5 linked regions of the Homo sapiens genome follow. The protein of the gene in region 5 interacts with the protein of the main gene of each other region in a pairwise test. Each region holds a gene or a part of one and is shown on either strand. Other genes may lie near its edges. The genes, in order: GTF2E1, XBP1, AATF, CHAF1A and PCBD2.

What was found.
Region 1: the proteins of PCBD2 (region 5) and GTF2E1 interact in a two-hybrid assay, tested with the Homo sapiens proteins (one large-scale study listed by BioGRID and IntAct).
Region 2: the proteins of PCBD2 (region 5) and XBP1 interact in a two-hybrid assay, tested with the Homo sapiens proteins (one large-scale study listed by BioGRID and IntAct).
Region 3: the proteins of PCBD2 (region 5) and AATF interact in a two-hybrid assay, tested with the Homo sapiens proteins (one large-scale study listed by BioGRID and IntAct).
Region 4: the proteins of PCBD2 (region 5) and CHAF1A interact in a two-hybrid assay, tested with the Homo sapiens proteins (one large-scale study listed by BioGRID and IntAct).

What each region holds. Positions count from the first base shown.
Region 1 is NC_000003.12:120,776,988-120,781,333, forward strand, and holds part of GTF2E1 (general transcription factor IIE subunit 1), read left to right. Parts: intron 1-4,055; coding exon 4,056-4,346.
Region 2 is NC_000022.11:28,794,060-28,797,569, reverse strand, and holds the end of XBP1 (X-box-binding protein 1), read left to right. Parts: intron 1-364; coding exon 365-493; intron 494-1,377; coding exon 1,378-1,416; coding exon of another isoform or gene 1,417-1,442; coding exon 1,443-1,523; intron 1,524-1,837; coding exon 1,838-2,395; 3' UTR 2,396-3,010; downstream 3,011-3,510. UniProt on the Homo sapiens protein: Functions as a transcription factor during endoplasmic reticulum (ER) stress by regulating the unfolded protein response (UPR).
Region 3 is NC_000017.11:36,955,163-36,959,508, forward strand, and holds part of AATF (protein AATF), read left to right. Parts: intron 1-4,346. UniProt on the Homo sapiens protein: Part of the small subunit (SSU) processome, first precursor of the small eukaryotic ribosomal subunit.
Region 4 is NC_000019.10:4,440,319-4,444,422, forward strand, and holds the end of CHAF1A (chromatin assembly factor 1 subunit A), read left to right. Parts: intron 1-1,926; coding exon 1,927-2,023; intron 2,024-2,606; coding exon 2,607-2,707; 3' UTR 2,708-3,079; downstream 3,080-4,104. UniProt on the Homo sapiens protein: Acts as a component of the histone chaperone complex chromatin assembly factor 1 (CAF-1), which assembles histone octamers onto DNA during replication and repair.
Region 5 is NC_000005.10:134,911,124-134,915,469, forward strand, and holds part of PCBD2 (pterin-4-alpha-carbinolamine dehydratase 2), read left to right. Parts: intron 1-4,346.

The sequences.
Region 1 (4,346 bases), on a different chromosome or scaffold from region 5:
ACCCTGACTTATATGCATTTAATTTTTCTGAATTGGGAGCCAAAACTATACGCTACCCCAAACTTTATGTTTTCTCTTCATAAATACCAAGGAGTGTATGCTACCTGAAATAGATACAAAGAGACCACATGAATAAAGGATTGAGCATTCTCACAGTCCAAGACGGTTAGCAGAACTTTGTTCTAGAGGATTTTGGAAATTTCTGAGGCATAAAGGGTTAAGAATTGCATACTAATCTTCGGAAGTTAGAGAACTGCAAGATTTTACTTTCTAAGTTTTAGTCTAAGTTACTGCATTCAAGACTTTGAGTGATGATGGTTTAGGAGTATGTAGAAAATGGGAGGCAAAAATGGATGACGATGACTCAAGCTGGAAAGTAGAGAGGAAGGGTGTCTCTATTTCTTGCTGAATTTTATCAGTGTAACAATCAATGTGCCGCTACTCCCAAGTTAATATATCATTACTAACATATCACGTGAGTTTGGTGATATGTTAGTGCCAAAGAATAATCAGTAGCTGAAAACCACTTGTTTTTTGGCGTTTCTCCTAGCCTCTTTTCCCTTCATAATTAGCATTTAGTATATGTATATACTAGAAATTGTGAAGGTAACGTGGAGTTTGGTAGTGATGGTAAAGCAGCTAATACCTCTACTGTGATTCTCTTTGATATATTAATTTTAATAAGAAAAGGTTTTCCAAGGCAACCATACTTTACCCTCCTTCTTCCTCACTGATTAGCCTGCCATGTTAGTTTTTTTGACGGAGTCTCGCTCTGTTGCCTAGGTTGGAGTACAGTGGTGCGATCTTGGCTCACTGAAACCTCTGCTTTCCGTGTTCAAGTGATTCTCTTGCCTCAGCCTCCTGAGTAGCTGGAATTGGGCGCAAGCCACCATGGCCAGCTAATTTTTGTATTTTTAGTAGAGACGGGGTTTTGCCATGTTGTCCAGGCTGGTCTCAAACTCCTGACCTCAAGTGATCTGCCTGCCTCGGCCTCCCAAAGTGCTGGGATTACAGGCATGAGCCACTGTGCCCAGCCTGTTGTGTTATTTAGATTGAAGTTGTTTTAGATTATACAGTAGTTAGGCTATACTACTACTTAATAAATTTGTTTTCCCCAACTTGGCTTCTTGCCTGTTCTTAAAGCAGCCTTCTTTTCTTTGAACTTAGGAAGAAAACTGAATAAAATAAAATTATTATTAACCAACATTATATATTAAGCTCATAAGTTTAACATTCTAGTTTACAGTTCCTAAAATGATAGAATATGAATCATATGGGCCTTAAATAAGTTATCTGGTCTACTTAAGTTTTGTAAATATTTATTTCTGCATAAAATAGGATAGTATGTTGTCATGTCTGAATTTATCCTAAGTTTCTTGATAGTAGAGCAGACTCTATCCAGTGAATGTATGAAGTGGGTCTTAACACTTGATTTTCCTCAAACTTCAAGTCATGTTGATATCTTTCACAATTGTATCGACTTCAATCATGTTCTCATTACTATACTGAAGAAAGTTCTAATTCCTTTTGATTCTGTTTTCCTTAAACAGTTCTCTTTTCCACTGCTGCCACCTCCTACAGTTTTTGTTTATTTTTGTCTTTTTCTGGACCATCTCTAATTGTAATATACTTTACTTGAGACATAGTGACCAGAATGATACATGTTGTTCATGCATGGATTCACCATTGATTTGAGTTTTATTTCCAGTATCTTTCTGGTTTTTACTTGAGATTTTGTTTGTTGCTTTGGTTCTGGAAGCATGTTAAGACCAAAAACTTCTAGAAACACGTAGAGGTACTTTTTAGGTTCTTCTGTGCCTTGAATCCAATAGCTTGGATCATATCTTTCAGTATATTTTAGATTATTTTTCTGCAGGCTGATTTTCTTGCACTTGCTGAAATAGAAATAGATCTGCTACTTTTCTGCCCACGTATACAACCTTCAGCTCTTCCTATATTTTTTTGCTGCAACTTGGCCTTTCAGTACCCACAATTGCTTAGCATCAATTCCGTGAATATAGTTTCCCAGTATACATCTTCTTTGTAATTTATAACTCTGTTGAAAAAGGCTGTTCCTAGAACCACTGTTTCTACTTTACCATCCAGAAATTTGCTCATTTATCCTTGTTTTTTGTTTTCTGTCTTCATCTGTAACAGAATAATTCTTTTTTCTCCAAACCTCTCAAGACCCTTGTCAGAAATCTGTTACGTGTGACTTAATTTAGTTTACAAAACTAATTTTCTTTTTCCCTAATTTAATACTTAAACATTAATCAAAATACTGTGTTGATATTATTAAACTATTTGGAACATTCTTTTAGAAGCAATTATTGTCTTAAAGGCTTGCATGCATTCCTTACCTTCTTTTCTTTCTGTTGTAGTGCTGCATTGGCAGTAAGCTCTAAGGAGGAGGTTCAGCCTTTGACAATATTTTGAAGTAGTTAAGTTTGATTTTAACTCTCATTTTGACAGTCATGTTATCAAAAGCCTCTTTTCTCTGACCTAAACTTTTAACTTGTCTGCTTCTGTTTCCCTTTCTCTCTCTTATCTGCTCAGTATCTCATTTTAGGAGTTCTGTGCCTTCTAAAATGTCCAGGGATTTAGCTAATTCATTTTAATGTGTTAATGAGAAGATGCTTTCACTTTATCCATAGTCAGAATTGACCATTTCTGAGTCTTCTCTTGATGACGATGATGATAGATAACACTATTCTAAGTGCCAGGCCCATTCTAGACACTTCACAGACATTCACTTAATCCCCACAGTAATCTAGTGAAGTAAATACTATTTTCCCCCTTTCTGTACTTGAGAAAATTGAAGCGGAGAGATGAAATAACTTGGCCAGAATCATACAGCTAAATAGTGTTAGGATTTGAATCAGGGAGTCAGGTTCCAAACAATACTTTTAATCTTTTTATGTATTTTAAATGGCAGTATGTTTGGTAGTAGTATCAGAATGCAGAATGCAGATGGTTTTCTTAAATATTTCATCTGCAGTATATCAGGTAAGATATGTACACAAAATGATAGGAGGTGTGTGGTGAGAGAAGCTTCATTCCTAAAATTAGATTCTTTTTTTATAAAGAGTTTTAAGTATGCTTAGTTTGCTTCATGAAAATAAAACTCACATTTATTCACTCATTTGTCAGATGTTTATTCAGTGCCTAACAGAGTGGCAGGTACTATTTAGGTAAATGGGATATATCCATGAATAAACAAGATAAATATCTGTTGTGGTAGAACCTACATCCTTGGAAAGGGGGTGACAAAGACAATAGATGTAAGTTATTCATTATGTTAGGAAATAAGTGCTATGGGGGAAAAATAGAGCATTGGGAATGTAGGGATAGGATACATTTAAAAGGTAACATTTGAATAAAGACATGAAAGATGGAAGGGAGTTAGCTGTGTGAGTACCTAAAGGAAAAATATTCCAGGCAGAGGGAACAGGTAATGCAAAGGCCCTGAGGTAGGAGTGTGTCTGATATGTACAAGGAATACCATGGAGGCTACTGTGGCTAGACAAGAATGAGCAGGGGAAAGAAGTAAGAGGTAGATGATCAGGAAGGATTCCAGATGATGTGGGACCCTATAGGCCATTGCAAAGCTTTTGGCTTTTACCTTGAGTGAGATAAAGAGCCATGTTTTGATTTTCTGTTATGCCAGCTACTCTAGTCGATTCTTCATAGACATTATCTTATATGTTTTTATTCAGAACCTTAGAAAGTAGATGCTTTTATCACCTCATTTTACAGAAAAAGGTATTGAAGTTTAGAGATTAAATAACTTGCCCAAGATGCTTGTGTGTAGAAGAACCAGGATTCAAATCTATGCTATAATACTCTTAAAGCCAATGTACTTGACCATTATGCTACTTAAGCTCCAGTTTGTAAGAAATATTTTGAATATTTTATGGATAGCAGCTCAAAAATGGAACCAGTGAAGTCTGTTATTTTATCGTATTATTTAAATATATGTTAAAATATTGTCTATATGCTATAAAGAAATGCCATTTATATTTAAGGATATTGACTTTCTGAGTTTTACTCCCCAGGGGGCATAGATATGGACGCATTTCAGGAGCGTGAGGAAGGCCATGCTGGGCCTGATGACAACGAAGAGGTCATGCGAGCACTGCTCATTCACGAGAAAAAGACTTCCTCTGCCATGGCTGGTTCAGTGGGGGCAGCTGCTCCAGTGACCGCTGCCAATGGCAGTGACTCAGAAAGCGAGACCAGTGAGTCAGATGATGATTCTCCACCCCGTCCGGCAGCTGTGGCTGTGCATAAACGAGAAGAGGATGAAGAGGAAGATGACGAGTTTGAAGAAGTAGCAGATGACCCCA
Region 2 (3,510 bases), on a different chromosome or scaffold from region 5:
ACCTCAGGTGATCCACCTGCCTTGGCCTCCCAAAGTGTTAGGATTACAAGTGTGAGCCACCGAGCCTGGCCAAGATAGTTTAAAAAAAAAATTATATCTACATTAAAGCCACAAGTCACCCTTTGCTGAAGTCAGTATTAGTAGTTGGAAGCAGTGTGTTATTCTTGACCCCATGAAGTGGCACTTATTAAGTAGCTTGCTTTTCCATAATTATGGCCTAGCTTTTTAAAACCTACTATGAACACCACAAGCATAGAGTTTTCCAAAAGTTCAAGAAGGAAAGGAAACCAATTATACTGAATCAGGTAGATTCTTAACTGAAATAATTAGATGTTTTAATAGCCTCTTATGAACTTTCTTCCAGAACCAAAAACTTTTGCTAGAAAATCAGCTTTTACGAGAGAAAACTCATGGCCTTGTAGTTGAGAACCAGGAGTTAAGACAGCGCTTGGGGATGGATGCCCTGGTTGCTGAAGAGGAGGCGGAAGCCAAGGTAAATCATCTCCTTTATTTGGTGCCTCATGTGAGTACTGGTTCCAAGTGACATGACCCAGCGATTATGTTTACAGTCTGGACTTCTGATCAAGAGCGTTCTTGAAATTTTCCTTCAGTTTTAAGACATTTTCATGCAGGCAGAGTGTTCTTCCCCTAAAGGCACTTGACACTCATTTTTTAAGTGTGTAGTGAACAGTACTAAGATCTAATAATGAAAACAAGTTACATGGCTCCCTAAGAACAAGTACTAACAAATGCAGTAGCCAACAAGATTACCATGCAATCATTAAGGAGAACCAAAGTAAGAGAGCCACTCAAACCAGATTTTGAACGCTACTAAAATTAAAGTAGTTCTTTGATGAATATGAATGAGTAGGGAAAGGATTCTTTGTAATAGTGATACCTCTGTGGTAAGAGAAGGGTGGTATGTGAGTTTTAGTCTACAGATTATGGCAAATTCAGTGACAACAATCAAATGGTCTAAGATTGACAGTAGCACAGTTTTACTCTGTGAAGGTAATGTTCAGGACAAATTTCAAGAAAACTAGAAAACCATTCTTTACAGCTGAAATCTTTCCCTAACCATTGTTATTTCCACTTTTAAGTCCTCAAGAGATGAGAAAAGGGAGGTAAGGCTTCCTTATACATTTCCTGCACAATGAAACATTTTTCCTCCTCCAGGCAAAGATTCAAGCAGAACTGGCAAATATCTTATCTTGCTCTTCTCAATAATAATAATGTTGTTAGATAATAAAGTTCTATAGCAATTTAACCCTAGAATCTTTTTGAAAAGTAATTCTTTAAAGTTGAGAATCACAGCTGTCTAGCAAGCATTTCCTTGGGCACTTGAAGCTGTTTATTCACTTTGGTCTTTCCTCCCAGGGGAATGAAGTGAGGCCAGTGGCCGGGTCTGCTGAGTCCGCAGCACTCAGACTACGTGCACCTCTGCAGCAGGTGCAGGCCCAGTTGTCACCCCTCCAGAACATCTCCCCATGGATTCTGGCGGTATTGACTCTTCAGATTCAGAGGTAGGGATCATTCTGACTTATTAAAGAGCTATATAACCAGTTAATTCCATCTGTTTGATGCTTGACATCCCTAACTAGACAGATGAGGGTTGAAGTTAGTTTTTGGTGGGGTTGGAGGTGAACATCAACTACCTTCCTAGTTCCAGGTAATATAGAACATGGAGTGAAGTGTAGATAAATGGGTCTGGTGGGTCCCGAGGTCATCTTATCACATAATGACTAATTTACATTATGGAACCCAGTACAAAGTGTTCCAGTTAGATTTTCCATTGTATTCTGACAGTTGTACTTCATTTAATTTTTGCCTCTTACAGTCTGATATCCTGTTGGGCATTCTGGACAACTTGGACCCAGTCATGTTCTTCAAATGCCCTTCCCCAGAGCCTGCCAGCCTGGAGGAGCTCCCAGAGGTCTACCCAGAAGGACCCAGTTCCTTACCAGCCTCCCTTTCTCTGTCAGTGGGGACGTCATCAGCCAAGCTGGAAGCCATTAATGAACTAATTCGTTTTGACCACATATATACCAAGCCCCTAGTCTTAGAGATACCCTCTGAGACAGAGAGCCAAGCTAATGTGGTAGTGAAAATCGAGGAAGCACCTCTCAGCCCCTCAGAGAATGATCACCCTGAATTCATTGTCTCAGTGAAGGAAGAACCTGTAGAAGATGACCTCGTTCCGGAGCTGGGTATCTCAAATCTGCTTTCATCCAGCCACTGCCCAAAGCCATCTTCCTGCCTACTGGATGCTTACAGTGACTGTGGATACGGGGGTTCCCTTTCCCCATTCAGTGACATGTCCTCTCTGCTTGGTGTAAACCATTCTTGGGAGGACACTTTTGCCAATGAACTCTTTCCCCAGCTGATTAGTGTCTAAGGAATGATCCAATACTGTTGCCCTTTTCCTTGACTATTACACTGCCTGGAGGATAGCAGAGAAGCCTGTCTGTACTTCATTCAAAAAGCCAAAATAGAGAGTATACAGTCCTAGAGAATTCCTCTATTTGTTCAGATCTCATAGATGACCCCCAGGTATTGTCTTTTGACATCCAGCAGTCCAAGGTATTGAGACATATTACTGGAAGTAAGAAATATTACTATAATTGAGAACTACAGCTTTTAAGATTGTACTTTTATCTTAAAAGGGTGGTAGTTTTCCCTAAAATACTTATTATGTAAGGGTCATTAGACAAATGTCTTGAAGTAGACATGGAATTTATGAATGGTTCTTTATCATTTCTCTTCCCCCTTTTTGGCATCCTGGCTTGCCTCCAGTTTTAGGTCCTTTAGTTTGCTTCTGTAAGCAACGGGAACACCTGCTGAGGGGGCTCTTTCCCTCATGTATACTTCAAGTAAGATCAAGAATCTTTTGTGAAATTATAGAAATTTACTATGTAAATGCTTGATGGAATTTTTTCCTGCTAGTGTAGCTTCTGAAAGGTGCTTTCTCCATTTATTTAAAACTACCCATGCAATTAAAAGGTACAATGCAGCATCCTTGTTTGATTTCTTCTAGGGCCGTAAGTCTTGTTTTCTCTCCAGATGTTTATCTGTGTGCTGTGGTAGGAATTAATCCAACTGAAGTGAGCCTAACGCTTTTTAAAGTGACTGAAGGCTTTTCCACCTTAATTACTGCCTGCTTTAATTCTGGACTGCCATAAGTGATATAAGCTATAATTTGAGCAGTTACTGTCTTTCTGAGACAGATTCTTGAGCCTAACTGACCAATATCACAGCTAGTAAGTGGAAGAGCTAGAACCCTAACCACTATTTGCTACACCATCTTATAAATGTTAAACAAGGACACACCATCACATATCGAGATTCTCTTGCCCTTATTATGGGAATTAAGAGCATTTTCTAGACTGAAACTCCCTATTTTCAACTCTGCCACTGGTAAGCTGGGTAACCCAGGGGTTATATATAATCACTTATTTCCTCATCTGTAAAGTTGGATAATGGTATCTCTAAAGGTTAAGATTCAAAGAGACG
Region 3 (4,346 bases), on a different chromosome or scaffold from region 5:
AGTTGGAAGGGACCTGAGGAGGATATCTAATTTGGCATCTGCCTGTAGGTAGAACCGCCTTAAGACATTCAAGATCAATGTGTAGGATTTCCCAGGTAGGGAGTTCAGTGAACGTTTCTTGTAGGTGAATACCTGATGTAATTAGGAATGGCTTCCTAGAGTCCAGTTTTTGGGTTTTGTGTCCCGCCACACTTAAAGTCTGCTTCTTCCCCTGTGGGAAGTCTGGGCAGTCCTTCCCAGGAGCCTTACGTGGCCTGTGTGGGTGAGGTGGGCCATTTATATCCCCGCCCCTGTCTTTGCCTCCTTTCTCTCTCAAATAGATGACAGATTGATGGTTTTCAAGTTTTTTGAGATTTTTGGAGCACTTCTCTGCTATTTTTAGTGTCCTAGTACCCTAATTCCTGGTATGCCTTTGGAATGAGACCTAGACTGCTCTAGATTAAATGTTTTAAATGTTTCACGATAAGGCCTGTTTTCATTTTGTTACTCATTATTCTTTTTGCTTGAGCCTTTTTCATTTTAAAAAATTCATATTTAAATATAGATATTTTAGGGGTTAGTCAGTGTCCAGTATAATGGACACATATTCTTGGATACGATTTAATTTCTTTTTGTTATGAGACAGGGTCTTGCTCTGTTGCCCAGGCTGGAGTGCAGTAGCGTGATCATAGCTCGTTGCAGCTTCGAACTCTTGGGTTCAAGTGATCTTCCCGCCTCAGCCTCCTGAGTAGCTGGTACTACAGGCATGAGCCACCATGCCCGACTAATTTTTTCTTTTTTTGTGGAAATAGGGTCTCACTATGTTGACCAGGCTGGTCTCAAAACTCCTGGTTTCAAATGATCCTTCCGTGTCAGCCTCCCCAAAATGCTGGGATTACAGGTGTGAGCCACCATACTCAACTCATTTAGTGTCTTTAATCACTGCAGTGTTATTTAACTTTTATTTTGTTCTGATCTTTTTACTCTTTTTTGTACTTAACCAATTGCCTTTACCTCATTGATGAACCTCAATTAATCTGACAGCATCTATTAATCTGACAGGGTGGGTTGTGGTGGAGGAGGGAGAAGAAAGGAAGTTTGGTATCACATATTCTAAGGTGGGAGGGTAGGGAGTTTTCAAGTAATGAGCTGTGCATTTGAAGAGTAGCTAATTTTTCTTGTGGCAATATGACATAATATGTTGTATACTCCCCTGTCTTGATAAACAGACTTTAAGAAAAAAATTCTTGGCCGGGTGCAGTGGCTCACGCCTGTAATGCCAGCACTTTGGGAGGCCGAGGTGGGCTGATCACCTGAGGTCAGAAGTTTGAGCCCAGCCTGGCCAATGTGGTGAAACCCCGTCTCTACTGAAAATACAAAAATTAGCCAAGTGTGGTGGCAGGTGCCTGTAATCTCAGCTACTCGGGAGGCTGAGGCAGGAGAATTGCTTGAACCTGTGAGGCGGAGGCTGCAGCGAGCCAAGATTGTGCCATTGCACTCCAGCCTGGGCAACAAGAGTGAAACTCCGTCTCAAAAAAAAAAAAAAAGTTCTTGGCCGGGCACGGTGGCTCCCGCTTATAATCCCAGCACTTTGGGAGGCTGAGGCAGGCGGATCACTTTAGGTCAAGAGTTTGAGACCAGCCTAGCCAACGTGGTGAAATCCCATCTTTAATAAAAATAAAAATATTAGCCAGGTATGGTGGTACACACTTGTAGTCCCAGCTACTTGGGAGGTTGAGGCAGGAGAATCACTTGAACCCGGGAGCAAAGGTTGTAGTGAGCTGAGATCGTGCTAGTGCACTCTAGCCTGAGCGACAAGAGCGAAACTGTCCCCCCCGAAAAAAAAAAGAGAGAGAGAGAGAAAATTCTTGAGCACATTACTCTGGATGACCAATTTATTACTGTGCTGTATAGCTGGTGTGGAACATAGGCTGAATTTGTACCAACCCCAGAACAACCACTGGAACTTACTGTCTTTAATTAAATCTCTTTTCAATTTGCTTGGTCTTACAGAGTAGTTAAAGTCAGACCGGCTTGGTTTAGATTTCATCTCAGCAATGGATTAGCCATGTGACCTTGGGCAAGTTACTTAACTTCACAGTAAAATGGGGATAATATGGTTGTGAGGATTAAAGGACATAATCAATAGAAAGCATTAGCACAGTGTCTGGCACACATCTCACCATGAATGTTAGGTACTAATATTATCTTTTTCTGCTCAAAGAGGCATTTGGCAGTGTTCGACCATGTGAGCAATCACTCAATAGTTATCAGTGTAACTGAGCCTCACTAGTCTTCAGTGTTTTTTACTTTTTTATTAGTATTTGGATTCTTTATATAATTTAAATTAACTAATTGTTCTGGAAAGTGTTATAGTTTACTAATACTTACAATGCAGTGTTGGCCTCTTACGACGCTATGGAAAGATGGCTACAGATTTCCTTATTGCTATACCCAGCTACTACCTCCTTGAAGCGTTTAACTTTTCCTTGAAATACTTTTCTTTGGCTTGGTGACACTACCTGTGCTGTTTGGGTTCTCCTACCTTTCTGATCTCTTCTCTGGTTCCTTTTGTATCCTCTCAATGTAAATTTCATTCCGTTTAGAATCCTGTCCTCAGGTTGCGTTTTCTCAATATAGTCTCTCCTTGGCACTGTCACTTACTCTGATAACCCTAACTATTGCCTCTAAAATAACAGACTTCCAGCTGTATTCTAGCTCCAGTAAACTCCTGAGTACCATGCCTTTGTAGCTTCAGCACCCTAAACTCTACTTTTCAGAAACTAAATGAATATCTCCTTCCTCTCCACACACCACCCCAAACACGTAAACTTAGTCCCCAGTCACCTTGGTGTTACATGTTGGTAATTTAAACTTGAACTGTGGAAGTGATTTCAAAGACATCGTCTGATATTTTAGTGGCTGCATAAGTGGTAAGTCATGGAGTAATCTTAACAAAATTAAGGGATTTTCTGTGCACAAAACCATTTCTCTAAAAGGGTTTGCTTTTTCTCTCTTTCTTTTTTTTCTTTTTTTTTTGAGATGGAGTCTCTCTCTGTCACCCAGGCTGGAGTGCAGTGGTGCGATCTCAACTCACTGCAACTTCTGCCTCCCAGGTTCAAGCGATTCTCCTGTCTCTGCCTCCTGGGTAGCTGGGACTACAGGCGCATGCCACCACACCCGGCTAATTTTTGTAATTTTTTTTAGTAGAGATGGGGTTTCACCATGTTGGCCAGGCTGGTCCTAAACTCCTGATCTTGTGATCCACCCACCTTGGCCTCTCAAAGTGCTGGGCTTACAGGTATGAGCCACTGTGCCTGGCCTTCTCTCTTTTAGAATTTCTACTGTATTAGGAAATACATCTTTTATGTTGGTGGCAATGATATGTAAGGAAGAAGGGAAGTTACTTAAGGAAATCTCACCATGAGTTATTTAAAACTTTTCATTATGGGATATATCAAACTTATATAAAAGTAGAGAAATAGCACAGTGAACCCCCACATGCCTTCACCAGCTTAAGCAATAATCAATTCATGGTCAATCTTATTTCATCTGTAGTTGTACCAACTCTGCTCACCTTCTGGATTATTTTGAAGCAAATAATACACATTCTCTCATCAGTAAAATTTTCAGCATGTATGTTCAAAAGATAAGGATTTTAAAAAATTATACCATAATCTCATGTAAAAACATTAACAGTAATTTCTTAATAAACATAACTGGCCTGGTGTGGTGGCTCATGCCTGTAATCCTAGCACTTTGGGAGGCCAAGACAGGTGGATCACCTGAGGTCAGGAGTTCGAGGCCAACCTGACCAACATTATGAAACCCCGTCTCTACTGAAAATACAAAAAATTAGCTGGGTGTGGTGGCGGGCACCTGTAATTCCAGCTATTCAGGAGGCCAAACAGGAAAATCTCTTAAACTCGGGAGGTGGAGGTCGCAGTGAGGCGAGATTGCGCCACTGCACTCCAGCCTGGGCAACGAGCAAAACTCCGTCTCAAAAAAAACAAACATACAGACTGGGTGTGGTGGCTCATGCCTGTAATCCCAGCACTTTGGGAGGCCAAGGTGGGCAGATCACCTGAGGTCCGGAGTTCAAGACCAGCCTGGCCAACATAATGAAACACCGTCTCTACAAAAGTACAAAAATTAGCCAGGCATGATGGTGGGTTCCTGTAATCCCATCTACTCAGGAGGCTGAGGTGGGAGAATTGCTTGAACCCAGGAGGCAGAGGTTACAGTGAGCAGAGATCATGCCATTGCACTCCAGCCTGGGTGACAGAGCGAGAGTCTGTCTCAAGAAAACAAACAAACCAACAAACAAAAAACATGACTGATTTGGATGGGTGGGAAAATTGTAAGTA
Region 4 (4,104 bases), on a different chromosome or scaffold from region 5:
TACTAGGGTCAGGTGCGGTGGCTCACACCTTGTCATCCCAGCACTTTAGGAGGCCGAGGTGGAAGGATGGCTTGAGCCCAGGTTGAGACCAGCCTGGGCAACATAGTGACACCCCCTTGTCTCTACTTAAAAAAAAAAAAATTAGCTGGGCGTGATGGCGGGTGCCTGTAGTCCCATCTTCTCAGGAGGCTGAGGCAGGAGAATGGTGTGAACCCAGGAAGTGGAATTTGCAGTGAGTCGAGGTCTAAAAAAATAATAATAATAATTCACAAGTCACAGTCATCACTTCACATCAGGGACGTGTTCTGAGAGGTGTCCTCAGGCAATTTCATGGTTGGGTGGGGCTAGGTTGCTCTTACACATCCTAGATGGACAGCCTGCCACACGCCTGGGCCGTGTGGTACATAGCCCAGGGCTCCTGAGCTGTGGACCTGTGCAGCAGGTGACTGACTGCTCCATCCTGCAGGCACTTGTAACCCAGTGGTATATGTGTCTTTAACATAGAAAAGGCACAGCAGAGGCCAGGTGCGGTGGCTCATGCCTGTAATCCCAGCACTTTGGGAGGCTGACGTGGGCGAATCCTGAGGTCAGGAGTTCGAGACCAGCCTGGCCAACATGGCGAAACCCCCGTCTGTACTAAAAATACAAAAGATTAGCTGGGCGTAGTGGCGGGCACCTGTTAAAAAAAAAAAAAAAGGCACAGCAAAAATATCGTTGCGGCTGGGGCAGTGGCTCACGCCTGTAATCCCAGCACTTTGGGAGGCCAAGGCAGGCGGATCACTTCAGGTCAAGAGTTCGAGACCAGCCTGGCAACATGGTGAAACCCCATCTCTACTAAAAATACAAAAATTAGCCGGGTGTGGTGGCAGGTGGCTGTAATCCCAGCTACTCAGGAGGCCGAGGCAGGAGAATCACTTGAACCTGGGAGTCAGAAGTTGCAGTGAGCCAAGATCGCACCACTGCACTCCAGCCTGGATATATGGCAAGACTCTGTCTCAAGATTTATATATATTAAATAAAAATACAGTTGTCTGTAATCCCAGGACTTTGGGAGGCTGAGGTGGGTAGATCATAAGGTCAGGAGTTTGAGACCAGCTTGACCAACATGGTGAAACCCCGTCTCTACTAAAAATACAAAAATTAGCTGGGCGTGATGGCATACACCTGTAATCCCAGCTACTCAGGAGGCTGAAGAACGAGAATCGCTTGAACCCGGGTGGCGGAGGTTGCAGTGAGCTGAGATTGTGCCACTGCACTCCAGCCTCAGTGACAGAGTGAAACTCCCGTCTCAAAAATAAAAAATAAAGGCCAGGCATGGTGGCTCACACCTGTAATCCCAGCACTTTGGGAGGCTGAGGCGGGCGGATCACGAGGTCAGGAGATCAAGACCATCCGGATAACACGATGAAACCCCGTCTCTACTAAAAATACAAACTGGGCGTGGTGTCAGGCGCCTGTAGTCCCAGCTACTCAGGAGGCTGAGGCAGGAGAATGGCGTGAATCCGGGAGGCGGAGCTTGCAGTGAGTCGAGATCGCGCCACTGCACTCCAGCCTGGGCAACAGAGCGAGACTCCGTCTCAAAAAAAAATAAAAATAAATAAATACAGTTGTAATCTGATGGGGCCACTATCAGGTATGCGGCCTGTCACTGACTGGAAATTATTCTGCAGTTGGCAATGATGGCTGTTTTTGGAGATCTGAATCCAGTTCATTTGAGGGAACCCCCAAGGTTCTCTGGTTGTGGCCTCTTGAATAAACCTCTCACATTTGGACAGTTTGTTACCAAATTGGGTTCTGGATGTTGGTTTCCTTCCGTGTTGGGGGTGGGAGGAAGGTGTCACACCTGTGGAGTTCCCCCCGCTACCGCACTGGCACCAGGGTGGCTGCTGCCTGCAGTGCTGATGGCCGTGTACCCTGTCTGTCCAGATTGGTGCTGAAGACATGGACGGCTTCCAGGCAGACACGGAGGAGGAGGAAGAGGAGGAGGGCGACTGTATGATCGTGGATGTCCCGGATGCTGCGGGTGAGAAGGGCTGTAGATAGCAGAACGCACTGGTGAGGTGGGCGCTGGAGGTAAACCTCAACAGAGAAGGGATGGGGCTGCCTAAGACTAGCTCCACTGTGAGCAGCCAGGAGGGCTTGCAGCTGGAAGTGGCTCCTGCCCTGCCACATCCTCGGGCGGGCTGGGCCGTGGGTGCTGACCATGCCAGGCATCGTTCTGGCCGCAGAGCCACAAGGGCCTATGCTGGGAGTCTCAGGTGGTTGTGACGTTAGATGGGGGTCAGGGAAGGCTGCACTGAGGCAGCAAGGGAGGGCCAGGTGGATTTCTGGAGCACTCGCCAAAGAGGAAGTACAGAGGCCCTGCAGCAGGCTGCGTGGGAGGAGTGTGCCCGGGTGGTGGGGGGCAGGCAGGGTCAACCTGAGAGCAGGTGAGCAGGTCACCTCTAGAAGAGGCACAACGCCCCAGCCTCTGCCTGTCCCCACTGTCAGGTGGAGGGTCCCGCCCTGGGGTTGTTGCAGGCCCCATGAGGCAGCAGGGTGGGGTCTTCCCCCAGGGAGCCCAGAGGGCCCAGCCAGCTCAAGACCCTCCCTCTCTTGCCCTGCAGAGGTCCAAGCCCCGTGTGGAGCCGCTTCCGGAGCTGGGGGTGGTGTGGGGGTGGACACCGGCAAGGCCACCCTGACCGCGAGCCCACTGGGTGCATCCTGAGAGCAGGGGTGACGTATGTAGAATGCTTAGGGTGTCCTCCCCACAGAGCAGATACTTGAACCGACTCAATTCCTGTGTAAAGAGCACTTTGTCCTGCTTCACGGACCTCCCCAAAGTGTGCAGAGTTCTATATAGGATGCTGGATTAGTTCCTTTGATATTTGTAAAAATTCCCCCAAGAGCCGCATATGAATCTGCCCTTTAATAAAGCATTATTGAGATTGCTGGCCTATTGGGGAAGCCTGCGGGCACAGGAGCAGGCGTGGAATCCAATACTTGTAAATGAATTGAAGCGTCAGGACCACCCGCCTGGCCACGTGCGCGGGCCCCTGGACCTAACGAGGCAGTGTATAAACTTATTCTCTAGCCCTGAGCTGCTCTGTCTGTCTTTTCCGAAAACATTGTGTTTCTCTGAGAGTGCACCTTGCCCATGGCCCGGCCCCATGTGGTGCCTGGTGTCTGGGGCCAGCCTTGTGCCCTGCAACAGCACCGTCCCATCTGTTTGTCACTAAGTCACCCTCATACCAGGCTGACCTGGGTCAAGGTGCGGGTTTTTCCGCACGTGCTTCTGTCCGGCGATCCCTCCTGCCCTGGGTTGGGGGGTTAGGAGAGGGTGTTCCCAGAGACCTGCTAGGGTCACCTCCCTGAACCCGGAGCTGCTGGGAGCCGAGTTTGGCTTCGAGTCTGAGGCTTTGTGAGAGCCCACCCCAGGTCAGGTGCATCTTTTGCGAGTGCTGGAGCTAGAAGGTGACCTCCTCCCCGCCCCAGGTTGAGTGGGCTTTATCCACACTGTCCGAGGGAGGACAGGCGACAGCCGCTGTGGTACTGAGCAGCTCAGAGCACACGCAGCCACGGGGAGGGTCACGCTCGCCAGTCCTGCTCTTCCCAGCCACACCCCACCTGAAGTCCTAAGCTTCCCTTCAGGGAACCCTATGTGGGAAAAGTGTCAGCTACCTCCATCCACCCAGTCAGGGACGGCAGGGCGCCCGGGCCAGGCCTTCCTGCTGGGAAGCAGGATTCAGCTGTGCCTGAAGCAGAGGCTGCCCCTGTGCCACACCTTTGATGAGCTTTACAGGGGCTCCCGACAACCCGGAATCAGGTCCTGGGGCCTGCAGGACGCAGGACTGGAGTGACAGCCTCCATTCTCAACAGGCCGGGTGCCCACACCAGCTGGGGCAGTGCCGGGGGCGAGGGAGGGACCAATGCAAGGTCAGGGGCACGAGCATAGGCCCCGGGCACCTCCCCCAGGTGCAGACCTGCATCCCCAAGTCAGCAGTGGGGCCGGGGCACACATGCCTTCCACACTGCAGGGCAGAGTCCCTGTGTCTCCTGGGGCTGCTGTACCACAAACCTGGTGGCTTAAAGCAAGTCACCATCTCACAGCTTGGGGGTCAGAGT
Region 5 (4,346 bases):
AAACTGGTTGAGGAAGATGTACCTGCTTGACTTATTTTCCCTGACTTTTTCTGGGCCGTTGGTAATTTTTCTTTCTTCCTGCAGTTAAATTTCTATCTCTCAGTCATCTCCCAGGCTGCACCCTTTTCCCTGACTGGCTTATTTTTCTCCAGCCCAGTAGCCAGATCCTGAACCTTTTCTTAAAACCTGACCTCCCCCTTGGAAGTCAGCTTTAACAAGGTAACTGTTCCATTAGGGACCCACCCTGTTTAGAGAGTCATCTCCCATGACTTAACCTTCAGTTATTACACCACTGCATTTGTAAAAGGTAAATGCTTTTGACTATTTTGTTTGTTCAGTTAGTTTGGTAATCCTTTGGACAGATTTATTGTTTTTATTTATATTGGGTGTCGGCATCTAGAAGTCAGAGACCATGTTTGCTTAAATAACTCTCTATTGTACCCAACACAGTTCTGGGTACAAACAGGCATTTGATAAATGCAGACATTGATTACAGTGTTTGCTAGTTTCTAGAAGGGTGTGTGAGGACCAGATTTGCACCAAAGAAACCTTCGGCATGTTTTCCTAGTAAATGTCATTGGCTCCACTGAGCTGCATGCCCGATTCTGTTCTCTATCCATCTGGCTGCCAGCCTCTGCTGTGAGTCTCCAACTCCTAAGGAAACCTGGACCAAGCAGACTCCCTGTCCCCGCTGCCCCACGTGCTCAACAGCTCTTGTTAGGGGCTTAGCACGCTGTGGCTGGTGGCAGGGAATCCCATTGGTACAGTAAGCCTGTGCATAAGCTCTAGGTAGCATTTTCCAAGCTTATTAAAATTCTTACATATGTACAGCTTGACTTCTTTAAACCTGGCCTAATTTATTGGGCTTGAACATGTGGCTTAAAGTACTCGAATGGTGTTGCCTCAGGCCCTGCCTATGATTCAGTCCTCCAGCACCATTCTGACCTTGCGCTCAGGGTGACTTTCAGCAATGGTAGGGAAGCATACTGGATTGATTGTAACATTATTCACTGGGGCATTTAATTAAGTAGACTTTTTTTTTCCCATTCACCCAACTTTTAGGAAAAAGAGGCAGATGACAAGAAAATCAGCTGATGTCAGGGAATGTATTCAGAGAACCAACACTGAGATTATATCCGGGGGTCAGTTTTCCCACTAGGCTCCTATGACTTCTGCGTGTACCATGGCCTGTAATGGTAACTGGTGTCCTGACAGTTGTCAGTGCCCTCCAGCGAAACACAACTAGGAACACACCTACAGTCGAACAAGTTGAGCTTATTGCTTATTGCTGTGAGGGAGAGTGCACACCAAAGGGCACCGTGGGGTGAGCCCATATAGGATTTGGGCTGTGGTAGTGATTTGGGGACTTTACTCTGGATTAGATGCTGTCAGGAAATGGGCAACTCTGTCATTTGGTATTTTAATAAATCGTATCTATAGGGAGAGTAGATTAAAGCAGTGCCAAAGCTGAAACTGAAGAAGAAGCAATAGTCACTCATTAGCTGGGAGAGGAGGATGTTTGGTATTTTGTGGCTTGGACAATGTTCATGTTTTGTCTGTGTTCAGGTATTGCAGAGTGGTCTTGTTTTTGTCTTCATCCATCATGGTCACAGAGTGGCCTTGTCTGGTGTTGATGTTGATGTTCGAAAGGAGAGCACCAAGGACTGGTTGATAGTACCAGGCCAGCGCCCAGGTGTCAGGAGTTGGTTTTCTCTTGCTCACAACTCGTGAGTAGAGTAGTGACCCTCTGGCGCTGATGGGTCCTCATTCATCTTTCATTTAGGACAGAAAAGCCATTGTTTTTTATTGTAACAACAGCATAACATTAAAATAGGATGGTGTAAGTAAAAAAAATTTCCAATCGCAACTACTTTTATTTTTCTCTGTTCTCTTCTGGTCTTTCTCCATGGGTATGTTTGTTTGCCAAGTATGCCAGAGCATGCCAGTTATACATGTGGTTACATTTAAAAAAATTTTTTAAATTTTATCATGAAATATTTATTAATTCAACAAAGATTTATTAAGCATTTTCTGTGTGCTAGGTGCTACTCTAAGCTCATACAGCTCCCATCCCAGTGGGAAAATAAACAATAAACAGATGAATAGGAAATATAATTTCAGCTAGTGATGAGTACCCTGAAGAATAAAGTAGGGAATTGGAGTGGAGGGGGACAGAGGCACTCTTGGAGGTAGAGTGGTCTGGAAAGTCCTCTCTGGGGAGGGGATCTCTGAGGCCTGAATAATGTGAAGGAGCTCAGCACATGGTGATCCAAGGGAAGAGCTTTCCAGCTGGAGAACAGCAAGCACAGAGTTTCCAAAGCAGAATGACCTTGGCATGATTGAGCCAGAAGCAGAAGGCCAGTGTGGAGTGGAGCAGGCGAGGAGACGAGGGGAAGGGTCAGAGCATGGGGGCCTTCTTGGCGTGGTGAGGAGTTTGGATTTTATTCTGTGAAGGAAAGCTAATGGAGGATTTCAGGCAGAGAAGTGTCATCCTGTGGCTGTGTTCTAAAAAATCACCCTGGCTGTTCTGCTCAGAATAGGCGGTAGGAAGGTCAGAGTGGAAGCAGGCAGACTCTGTAGAACACTGTTGCAGATGTCTAGACCGGGGATGATGGGGGTCTTATGGAGGTATCAGTGGGGATGGAGAGAAATGTAGGGTTCCACATATTTTGAAAGTAGAATAATCAAGACTTGCTGAATGATTGGATGTGTGATAGGGGAGGGTCAAGGATGGCACCAAGGTTTTGGTTCAAGCTATAGTGTAAAGGGTAGTGCCACTGGAGCCATTTACTGAGCTGTGGAAGATGGGGTGCAAGGTGGGGGGCAGGGGTATGGAGGTGAGAATCCTGTTTTCACATGTCAGGTTTGAGGTACTTATTAGTCATCCAAATGGAGTTATTGGGTTAGGAGGTGGGTGTAAGAGGCTGGAGTTCAGGCTGAGACAGCAGTTTGTGAGTTGTCAGAGGGGATCACTGTGAGAGCATGGTCCAGTTAGGCAGGAGAGGACAGGATCAGATGGGCAGTGGAGGCACAGCGATGATATGTCCATTGTGGTTTAGATGCCAATAGGCCGTTACATTCATCCTGGGAAAAAGAGGGCCATTCTCTCCTGATTGCTTTTGTTTTTTAGTGAGATCATCAATTGAGAGCAAGTAGGGGTGGAAGGGAAGAGTGTTGGAGACCTGGGGAGATAAGAGAAGGAGTGGAATAGTCATTTTGGAGACTAAGATAGTGAAAAAACTTGAGAAACGTGGCTGGTTGCTAAGCAGTTCTCAGTGTCACTACAGATTTGGGGTCAAACATTTAAAGTGAACATTTTGTATGTTTTTTTTCCTGCTGTGTTCCGCTGCTGTGCACAAGCTGGAGTAGATGCAGAGTTGGGCTTAACAAGGACTGAACTTTTGCTAAATGAATGCAATGGAGGAACAGAGGGACAAGGGAAAAAAGGGAGGGACAGAAACGCTGGCCCTTGGAGTCTCGGCAGGGTAGGGAAGTACAGTTGTGATGGGGAGGTGATAGTGATGAGCTGAGAGTGTCATTTGACATCATCTATTTTTTTTTTTTTCAGATGGAGTTTCACTCTTGTCACCCAGTCTGGAGTACAATGGTGCGATCTTGGCTCACTGCAACCTCCACCTCCCAGATTCAAGTGATTCTTCTGCCTCAGCCTCCAGAGTAGCTGGGATTACAGGCGCCCGCCATCATGCCCAGCTAATTTTTTGTATTTATAGTAGAGATGGGGTTTTGCCATGTTGGCCAGGCTGGTCTTGAATTCCTGACCTCAGGTGATCTGCCCGCCTCGGCCTACCAAAGTGTTGGGATTACAGGCATGAGCCACTGCACCCAGTTGACATCATCTTTTTGAAGGGAAATTGAGCAATGCCTATCAACTTTTAAAACTCACATACCAGAGCCGGGCGCGGTGGCTCACATCTGTAATCCCAGCACTTTGGGAAGCTGAGGTAGGTGGATCACGAAGTCAGGAGTTCGAGACCAGCCTGACCAACCTGGTGAAACCCTGTCTCTACCAAAAATACAAAAATTAACCAGGCGTGGTGGCGTGCGCCTGTAATCCCAGCTACTCAGGAGGCTGAGGGAGGAGAATCGCTTGAACCTGGGAGGCGGAGGTTGCAGTGAGCCGAGATCACACCATTTCACTCCAGCCTGGGTGACAAAGCGAGACTGTGTCTCAAAAAAAGAAAAAAAAGGACATATCCATTGTCCTAACCTAGAAATTTATCTTCTAAATATTGTTCTGCATGTATGCAAATAGGATGTATGGGGATGTCTATTAAAGCCTGATGGGCCTCTAATTTTTTTTTTTTTTTTTTTTTTTTTTTTGAGAC